2 separate regions of the Homo sapiens genome follow, and region 2 is linked to region 1. The links come from fine-mapping of genetic effects on gene expression. A gene starts in region 1. The other region holds a variant in brackets. All regions are shown on one strand. Distances are between the middles of the regions. Region 1 holds the start of KANTR (KANTR integral membrane protein). Region 2 overlaps IQSEC2 (IQ motif and Sec7 domain ArfGEF 2).

Evidence for each region. PIP is the estimated chance that this variant, and not a neighbour inherited with it, causes the effect.
Region 2: its variant is fine-mapped to the expression of KANTR in prefrontal cortex (GTEx, PIP 0.93).

Annotation. Positions count from the first base shown.
Region 1 is chrX:53,091,210-53,096,731 of GRCh38, reverse strand. KANTR (KANTR integral membrane protein) reads right to left here and starts at 2,590. Exons shown (of 3, transcript NM_001397448.1): 1 at 2,448-2,590. RefSeq lists a silencer at 2,262-2,411 and enhancers at 2,472-2,591, 2,902-2,961, 2,674-3,498.
Region 2 is chrX:53,236,728-53,241,827 of GRCh38, reverse strand. IQSEC2 (IQ motif and Sec7 domain ArfGEF 2) reads left to right here. Exons shown (of 15, transcript NM_001111125.3): 10 at 1-44; 11 at 2,534-2,633; 12 at 3,522-3,683. Among named protein-coding and RNA genes, the nearest start is that of KDM5C, 14 kb to the right of the region's middle. The variant A/G (reference allele first, on the strand shown) is at 3,111.

The DNA.
Region 1 (5,522 bases):
ATCTCAGCCTCCTAAGTAGCTGGGACCACAGGCGTGCACCACAACACCCGGCTAATTTTTGTATTTTTTGTAGAGACGGGGTTTCATCATGTTGGCCAGGCTGGTCTCGAACTCCTGGACTCAAGCGATCTGCCCACCTTGGCCTCCCAAAGTGCTGGGATTACAGGCGTGAGCCATCACACCCGGCCCTGTTTGGGGGGCATTTTTGACTGTGACAATAATTGGAGATCATCAGTGACAACCCTAGCTATGGACCAGGGATGCTCAGCCCTCTGCAGTGTACAGGACAGCTCCACACCACAAAGAATCATACCACATTCCATACAACTTTAGAATATCTCACCAGTAATGTAGGTGAAAAACCTGTTCATTTGTTCTTTTATTCATTCAACAAACATTCATTGAGAAAGTCTACTAGGTGTCAAGCACTATTTTAGGTAATAGGAATGTATCATAGAACAAAAAAGACAAAAATCCCTGCCCTTCTGGAGCTTATAATTGAGTGGGAGAGTCAGACAATAAACAGCAAACATACTAAGCAGTTAATGCTACACTGTGAAAAAGGTGTAGAATACCATGGAACAGACAGAGCAGGGGCATATTAGGGGAGAGCTGCAATTTTAAACAGGATGGTTGGGGGGCCCTCTGAGAAAGTGACAGCTGAGTAGAGGCCTGAAGGAAGCAAGGGCCTGAGCCTTGTGGGTATTTGAGGAAAGAGCATTCCAGATACACGGAATGCAAAACCCCTGAGGCGGAAGTGTGCCTAAGGTGTTCAAGTAATAGTAAGGTGGCCAGCATGGGTAGATAGAGTGAGCAAGGGGGGAGAGTGGTGGGAGATAAGGTCAGGGAGATTAAGAGGGTCTCATCATGGATATTAATATATACTGATTTTTCCAGAAATTTAACGACCATATAAACTGAGAAACTCTTCCACATTGTTTTGTTTAGAACTTTGTGAAGAATTGTTCATTATTTAGGAAAACTGTGTCACTCTACCTGTGGCTTCTGAATCACCAATCAACACACATGTAGCTGTCACTATCATTAAGTGTAAGACCATTTCATCATGTCTTCTAATGGAGTCATATCCCAGTCTTTGCATATATATGTGCGATATATGTATAATATAATATTATATATTACTCTTCCTTTACTACTCTCTATATTACAATTAGGGCATTATATTGGTTTTCAGGGAATTATGGGTGTAGACAGATTCTATTTTCTATCCATTTCATTTTAGAATAGTGAAGCATTTCAAAATACACCTTATTAAAAAAAAAAAGCAATGTTGGGTCCAACAGGTATGAGAACGACCAAAGCATAGCAAGAAAATAAAGGGAGTATTCAGAAGCCAGGATGAGAATGGAGGGAATTTTGCTGATAACTGAAGGTGAGTTCCTTAAGGCCTGGTCAAAGGATTTCAGGATGGAAATAGAAAATAGGATGTCCAGGGCTGTATGGAGACATAACCAGGAGATCTGTGGGCTTCCTGTGGTGACTAACATTATATAGGATAAGGGGCTATTAAAAAGTGGTTTTTAATCTAAGTTGCTCCCAACTTTGGGTGTCTCTACCTGTTTAACAGAGTAGGCTGGGGAGCAAAGAGAGTTCTCTCTTCAATGACACCAGAAGCAACCCAAAGCCAGGCTCCATTTTTTACCCACAGAACAGGTCGGAGCCCCAGGCTAAGCTCATGTCCTCGGGGGTAAAACTTATTGCTATAAACTATGCACCTCTAACCTCTTTAGGGTTGAGAAAGAGACGGGTAAAAAGAGGAAAAACAGTAACAGAGAAAGACAGAAGCATTCAGAAAGATCCAATGGAGGAAGGGTCAGAGACAGAGAAAAGACAGAAACCAAGAGAGACAATATTCTTTTCAGTCAAGATAGTCATTATTTATTGAAAATTTTCTAAGGACCGGGTGCAGGGCAAAGTAATGCACATGCATTGTCTCAGGTACACATTATCAGACCCCCATTTGGCAGATGAGGAAACTGAGGCCCAGGCTGGTGAAGGAGATAGCTCAAGGTTTCATAGCTAGTTTAAACTGGTCAGGATTCAGCATCTTATATCTACTACGTCTCAAAAAGTGGGACAGAGACAGAGATGGGAGAGGGGATGCAAAGACAGACACGCACGCAGACGATCACGTGAGCGGCAGACCTGCATGGAACCGTTTCGAAAGACACTGAGGGTGGGAGGTGGGGCCGCGGGAGGGCAGCAACGGGCACCGACCGCTCCGCAGGGTACTCACCTGGTTGCAGTCTGGGAGCCGCAGGAGCACTCGGCTTCCCTTTGCGACCCGCACGATCCTCCGCAACCCGCTGACCTAGGGTTGAGAGGCCGCCCCAGTAAAAGCTCGCGCAGGCCCCACCCCTCGCGCGCTTCGGCCGGCCTCTTCCCGCTGCCACTCCCCCCACCGCCCCGTCTTTATGGCTTCTCACCGTACACCTCCGGCCGTCGCCGCCGCCGCCCCTGCCGCGCGCGCACAGACACCAGAGGCCTACAGCAAGATCTGAAGGATACGCTGGACGGAACCCTTCCACGGGCTGCAGCGCGAGCAGGGGCACGGGCCTACGCCGCTACCGACGGCTCCCCGGCTCCCATTGGAGGAGTGCCCTTCTGCCTTTCCAGGGATTGGCTGGGGATGGAAACATTTTATTTTTACCCCCGAGGCTTAGAGCCAAACCGAGGAAAACTCCGCCCCTTCGGGGGACTTTGATTGGTTAAAGAGCCAAGCCCACCCTTTAATAGGATTGGCCAGGAAAGGAGTGCTTGTCATGGCCCTTTGCCTGTCTATTCGACAGGTCTTCAGGCGGCTACTTGGGAATACGCAGGCGGGAAGCCGGAAGCCACGCCAGGCGCCGAGTCACTGCACAATCGAGATGCCTGGCTTCTTTGACGTTTTACTCTCCATAAGCCACCTTGCACTGCCACCGCTCTGCTAAGAGACGCGATTCTGCCCCTAGTTTCTCACAGTTCCACACCCACCTGCAGAGATTCCTAAGCCAGGTTTCTCTCGCTCAAAGTGAGCAGAGTTCCTTATTCCATGCATGGAGGATGAGGTGGCTATGGGGATGTGGCGTGTCACCTACCAGTCCCTGATACCTGCTGAGACATTGGTCAAGTGACAACCTCGCTAGGAGCCTCAGTTTAACCATCTGGAAATGGAAAGATGTTTTAAAATTTTCCTCACAATGTGTGAGGATTAAATGAGAGGGCAAATATAGATCAGTTGCCTGGGGCATAAATAATTAAGTTCTCTCCTCCCAATTCTTTCCCAGTATTCAGGCGGACAGAACTTATGGCCCAGAGAGGCAAACTGACTGGCTTGAAGTCACACAGCCAGGCCCCACCCCTCGCGCGCTCCGGCCCTGCCTCTTCCCGCTACCACTCCCCACCACCGCCCCGTCTTTGCGTCTTCTTACCGTACACCGCCGGCAGTCGGCGCAGTAAGACCCAGAATAAAACCCAGGCTTCCAAAGGAAAACTGTTTAAGAAGGAAGGAGAGATGGGAAGGACCCTCCTATTTGCAAGGGTTCTTAATTTGTATTCTGCAGACCTCTAATCGAGGCTGGGGACAGGGTTTGGAGAGGTCCATGAATTTGGATGGGAACAAATTTACACCTTTATGGCCGGGCGCAGTGACTCATGCCTGTAATCCCAGCACTTTGGGAGGCCGAGGCGGGCGGATCACCTGAGGTCGGAGTTCGAGACCAGCCTGACCAACATGGAGAAACCCCATCTCTACTAAAAATACAAAATTAGCCGGGCGTGGTGGCACATGCCTGTAATCCCAGCTACTAGGGAGGCTGAGGCAGGAGAATCGCTTGAACCTGGGAGGCGAAGGTTGCCGTGAGCTGAGATCGTACCATTGCACTCCAGCCTGGGCAACAAGATTGAAACTCCGTCTCAAAAAAATAAAACAAAATTACATCTTTATTTTCCCTCTCCTCTAACTGAAATTTAGCATTTTTCAATAAAGAATGTAACTAGGCATAGTAGCAGCAGTAGTAGCAGTACTGATTGTCACTAATAGAAATCAGAGATTTTCATATCACATTATAGATGTTGCAGATCTCTTGAAAATCATATAATTTCAATCATTATTTTAAAATCATGATAGTCATTAGACCCTCCATTAAATCTTATGATTTAATGGATTAATGGGGAGTACATATACGATTATACTATAGCACATATTTGCTTTTTCCATATTTTAATAACTATATTTCAATGTAATCAATTTCTTTTGTAATTCTAGATATTTTATTTTATGAATTTAAACAATTTTTTTTTTCTGAGAAAAGGTCTGGTGGGGCATGGTGGCTCATGCCTGTAATCCCAGAACTTTGGGAGGTCGGAGGCGGGTGAATCACCTGAGGTCAGGAGTTCCCGACCAGCCTGGCCAACATGGTGAAACCCTGTCTCTACTAAAAATACAAAAATTAGCCGGGCGTGGTGGCGGGCGCCTGTAATCCCAGCTACTCGGGAGGCTGAGGCAGGAGAATTGCTTGAACCCAGGAGGTGGAGGTTGCAGTGAGCCGAGATCGCACCATTGCACTCCAGCCTGAGCAACAAGAGTGAGACTCCATCTAAAAAAAAAAAAAAAAAAGAAAAGAAAAGAAAAAGAAAGGTCCCATTAGGCTTCACTAGATCACCAAAGGGGTCCATGGCACAAAAAATATTAAGAATATTTGTCTTGAACTCTAGGCTCCAGGAGGAAAAAGACTTGCTCTATTGGCTGGGTGCGGTGGCTCACGCCTGTAATCCCAGGACTTTGGGAGGCCGAGGCGGGCTGATCATGAGGTCAGGAGATCGAGACCATCCTGGCTAACATGGTGAAACCCCGTCTCTATTAAAAATACAAAAAATTAGCCGGGCGTGGTGGCAGGCGCCTGTAGTCCCAGCTACTCGGGAGGCTGAGGCAGGAGAATGGCGTGAACCCGGCAGGCGGAGCTTGCAGTGAGCGGAGATTGTGCCACTGCACTCCAGGCTGGGCAACAAAGAAAAAAAAAAAAAGACTTGCTCTATCTTGTTTCCCTGCTGTATCCCTATCACCCAGTTCAGTACTTCAGGCACACAGTAAGTACTCATAAGTGTTTACTGAATGAATAATAGGATTCCTTCCCAACCATCCTGCACACCCCCAACTGGGGGAGCCAGTGCCAGCCCTTTGGGTCACCTAAGGAGGGACATTCTTGAATCTAGTTTTGTCCCTGCCAATCCGATTCTACTCACAGAAGTAGGTGGCACTTTAAAGGTCTGGTCCCAGGAAATCCCAGGAACCTCCCACCCAGGAGCAGGGCCCTCTGCTGCAAAGGAGCGAGGGCAAGCTAGGAAGCATATGAAGACAAGTAGTTTCAACATGGGAACAGGCCCTAGGGCACATTGGGCCCATGACTCTTCATCCTCCTGGTTTCTGTTTAAGGTCTCAGCCAATGGGGCCTGTCTTCTCTGGCCTTCAGCGAAGACAGTATCTTGGAGCTAGATGTGACCTTAAAGACCTAGAACAGCCC
Region 2 (5,100 bases), 150 kb before region 1:
GGTTGCATCAGCGGGAGGTCTTCCTCTTCAATGATCTCCTTGTGGTATGAGCACTGTGGGGGAGGAGATGGGAGGGAGAGAGTGAGCTTGACACCTAAGTCTGGTGTGAACCATATTGATGTAGGTGTGTGGTGTGTGGAGTGTGGCGGGCGAGGTGTTCTGCCATGCCATCTGCATGGTCTCAGGCAAGGCCCAGGCCTTCTCTGCCCCTCCTTTTCCTCACAGATGCATTTGGAGGTAGTAACAGACACACAGGGACAGAAAATATGAGGACCAAAGGAGATGACAGACTTACAACCTGGGAAGTGGTAGGAAATATCCCTGTCCACCTCAATAGCCCATAGGGTTGTGTGAAGAGGGGTGAACCTGCGACCCCCCAGGTCAGTCTGGAAATCTTCAGTAATCAAGATGCTTGAAGTGGGCTCGGCACTGTGGCTCACACCTATAGTCCCAGAACTTTGGGAGGCCAGGGCAGTTTGAATCACTTGAGCCCAGGAGTTTTGAGACCAGCTTGGGCAACATGTCGAAACCCTGTCTCCACAAAAAATACAAAAATTAGCCGGGCATGGTGGTGTGCACCTGTAGTCCCAGCTACTTGGGAGGCTGAGTCGGGAGGATCACTTGAGCCCAGGAGGCAGAGGTTGCAGTGTGCTGTGATCGCACCACTGCATTCCAACCTGGGCAACAGAGCCAGACCCTGCCTCAAAAATAAATAAATAAATAATAAAAACAAAATTTAAAAAAGATGCTTGGGCCAGGCACGGTGGCTCATGCCTGTAATCCCAGCACTTTGGGAGGCCGAGGTGGGTGGATCACCTGAGGTCAGGAGTTCAAGACCAGCCTGGCCAACATGGAGAAACCTCGTCTCTACTAAAAATATAAGAAATTAGCTGGGCGCAGTGGCGCATGCCTGTAGTCCCAGCTACTGGGGAGGCCAAGGCAGGAGAATCGCTTGAACCCAGGAGGCGGAGGTTGCAGTGAGCTGAGATCGCTCCATTGCACTCCAGCCTGGGCGACAAGTGAAACTCTGTCTCAAAAAAAAAAAAAAAAAAAGATGCTTGAAGTGATTCTTCAAACTGAGCTCATTACAAGTAGAGATGTTTGTCTTTTAGGGATGGGACTCTTAGGACTTTGCAGGTTGGAAGGGACTTTCAGGGTCCAGCTTCCTAGATGGCCCACTGGATGTATGACTGCAGGGACAGAAAGCCGCCTTCCTCTAAGGCAGCCAGTTGCCTTGTTAGGCAGCTCTGACTGCTAGAATTTGTCTCCCTGTGGGTTTCTTCCAGCCATCTGCACTCAACCCTTGGCATCACAAAGAACAAGTGTTGTACCTCTGCTCCAAGACAGCTCTCCAGGGATTTGAGGACTCTCTTGATCCTGTTCTCCCTGTGGTCTTCTCTCCTTTAGAGCAGGGTTTCTCAGTCTCATCACTGTTGACATTTGGGGCTGGATAATTCTTTGCGGGGACTGTCCTGTGCACTGTAGGATGTTTAGCAGCACCCTGGTCTCTACCTACTAGGTGCTAGTAGCAACCCTTCAACCAAAAATGTCTCCAGATGTTGCTCCGTGTCCTCTGGGGGCAATATCACCCCCAGTTGAGCATTGCTGCTTTAGCCGAAGTATTTCCATGCTCCCTCTGAGCCTTAGTTTCCTCCTCTGTGAAATGGAACTAACCCCTACTTCACAGGATTGTCATGAGGATGAAATGAAATAAGAGGTTATATGTGGAATCTGCCCTACCCCAGGGAGTACCTGGCCCACACAGTCAATGTGTAGACATCCCTCAGGTACTGAAACTGGTGTATGTCCAGCTCTATGCTAGGCACTGGGTATGCCAGGATGAATCAGACTTAGTCCCTGTTCTCAGGGAGCTCACAGCCCAAAGGACCTAAAAAAGTGCTTTGCGTCATTGTGCCATCCTGAAATCAAAACATTTCCTTTTACGAGCCACTTGCAGACCGCCTGAGGTGTTTGCAGCCTGTGTTAGTTGAGTCCAGAGTGCCCAAGTACTCGACAAAGATATTGGGTTGTTGAGAGGAAGACTTATTAACTCTCTACATGGGTTCAGCAGAGATTGCCATTAAGTGCAGGCTCTGGTAAGGCCTGGTGACAGAACCCGACAACCAGACTCCTGCCCTCCAGTCCAGCAGGGGGCGATCACACACTCAGAGGACTAGCATAGTGCCTGACAAGGGAAAGGCACTGAATCACCATTCTGGAGCTCAGAAAAGGGGTTTACAAATCTCTGTGGGATGTTGGAGCAGGCTTCCTGGAGGAAGCAGGATTCAGTTAGTTTCTGGAAATGTGGTAAATGTCTGTGGTGCGTGGTCATTACATCAGGAACTTGCGTTTTCTTCCATGTCTCCCATTCTGTCCCTCAAGCTTCCATTCTCCCCAGCTTGTGGGCATGTGTGTTTGTGTGTGTGTGTCTGTTAATGGGGTGGGAGGGGAGGGTGGTTACCAGAAATAGGTGCCACGTGGAAATCCCCCACCCAAAGCGCTGCCTCTTGTCTTTTTCCCACCCCTGCCAAAGGTCACCAAAATTTTCCAGAAGAAGAAGATCTTGGTGACGTACAGTTTCCGTCAGTCTTTCCCCCTCGTGGAAATGCACATGCAGCTCTTCCAGAATTCATGTGAGTCCCTTCTTGGATCCCAGCTCCTGAGAGTCTATGTCATGGCCCCCATGCTCACCCGTCATCTATACCAGCTCCAGTTTTCGGAGTCCCTTACAACCGGACTAAGGGTCTCCAAAGCACCTACTTGGTCCCAGGATGAGGGGCAGGCCAGGGTGGAGTATGACTTGGGTCTAGCCCCTGGTTAGCTCATGGTCTTGCAGAGAACCACAGTGCATGTGTTCTCTGGTGGGCCAAAGAGACGGTGATCATGCTGTGCTCTGAAGGATGAACCAGGAGGAGCTTTGTTGCGTGGTATTCCTGGCAGCAGAAGCAATGTGAGTTGAGGCAGAGGTGAGAAGGAAAGGGTTTCGAGAGAGCAGTGCATAGTTGTGTGCCTTTACATCCTGCAGTACAGGGAGTAAGAGGGCCACAGCTACCAGGAGTTTGAGGGCTTTGGGGCAAAGGGGAGCTGCTAAACATGCTCAAGCAGAGAAG[A/G]GGCATGATCAGAGTTAGACAGTAGAAAAATTATTTCATGGGCTAGGCATGGTGGCTCACACCTGTAATCCCAGCACTTTGGGAGGCCAAGGCAAGAGGATCGCTTGAGCCCAGGAATTCGAAACCAGCCTGGGCAACATAGTGAGACCCCATCTCTACTGAAAATAAAAAAAAATCTGCGCATGTGGTGCGTGCCCATGGTCCCAGCTACCCAGGAGGCTGAGGCAGAAGGATCACTTGAGCCCAGGAGTTCAAGGCTGCAGTGAGCCATGATGGCACCACTGCACTCCAGCCTGGGTGACAGAGAGATGTTGTCTCAGAAAAAAAAGAGCAGAAAAGAAAAATTATTTTATGTATGAGCCACCTTGCACCAGTCCCAACAGAGGTGCCCAGTCTCCCCTTTCTCCACAGATTACCAGTTTGGGATCAAGTTGCTGTCTGCAGTACCTGGTGGGGAGCGAAAAGTCCTCATCATCTTCAATGCCCCCAGCCTCCAGGACCGGCTGCGCTTTACATCCGACCTGCGCGAGTCCATTGCGGAGGTGCAGGAGATGGAGAAATACCGTGTGGAGTGTGAGTAGCCCAGCCATGTCTCCTCCCTGCTCTCCTGAAACAGTACCCTGCAGAAACCAAGAATCCTATCCTCAGAGAATCTCAGAGTTGAGGGTTAGCTTGTCCAACCTTCCCATCCTCATTTCAAGAATTCTTCAGCCTCTGCTTGAATACCTTCAGTGACAAGGGGCTCATTACCTCCCAACCCCATTATTATCCTGAACTCTAATTATGAGCCAACTATTCCTTCTAGTGAAAGGTATCAGGGAGAAGAATCAGAGTATTGGAGGTAGGACTATAGTTTTAGATCCCAGGTATACTACTCATTATCTGGGTGAACTGCAGCAAATTGCCTAACCTGCCAAGCCCCAGTTTCTTCCTATACGAAATTGGGGTAATGAAGTCTCCTTCACAGAGTCATGGAGATGAAATGAGACAAGGTAGCCGAAATGTCCCAACACATCTTAGGCATTCAAAAAATCCGTATTTCCTGTCCCACCCTCTCTCCTCCTCTGCCCACATATCAATTCCTGAGCTGAATCCCAGTGGGCTATCCTCTCAGCCCCCAGGGGCCACACCAAGTCATTTTGATCATATATATATAATGGAAAATAGTGATTACATCTCATTCCTCCCGATGCCCTCCAAGTTTTCTCTTCTCCAGGCTAAGCAGTCACAGTTAAGTAACATGGTGTTAAGGAGAAAGAGGCAGGCAGACAGAGACGAGGCGGCGGACAGCTCCTTGGTGAGGCCTTCACAGCTCCAGGGCCACTCTACTTCTCAGCGAGGCAGGGATAGAAATTTCAGTTCACCAGATCCTTTGAGACCCTGGGGAAATCCTGAGAGAGGGATTAGTAGCCCAAGACGAGGGGAGGCCAGTAGACACGTGTTTCTATGAGCTCCGTGGGGAGGTGGGGCTGTAGGAGGCCGGAAGCACCCAAGCTCTGGAATCAGGCAGACCTGCTTCCAGAATGTCGGCTCTGCCATTTCCAGCTGTATGACCCTGGGCAAGCTCTAAGACTTCTCGGATACTCAGTTTCTTCCTCTGCACAATGTGGATGCTAATACTGACCTCAGAACTGTTGTGAGGACTGAGAGAGATCAAGTATGTGTAGCGCCCAGCATACTGCCTGGCACATAATAAGAGGATTTGATTCCTGTCAGTTTCCTGCTCCTGCCCTTCCAGGAGCCCCTCTGCTCCGGAGCAAGGTATCTGAGAACTGACTGAACTCTGGAAAGATTGCCCTTTGCCATAGGCTAGAAGGGCCTTACCATCCTTACTGTGAACCATCTGCCATGAAGCTCTTTTTTGAAGGGCAGGGGTGCTTTGGGAGACCTGATTGCAAGAGGGCATGGGAGGGGAGAAGTCAGAAGGGTGAAAGGAAGGGAAAGGGAACAGGGAGAGCAGGCACCAAGAGGGATGAAGGGAAGGCTGAGC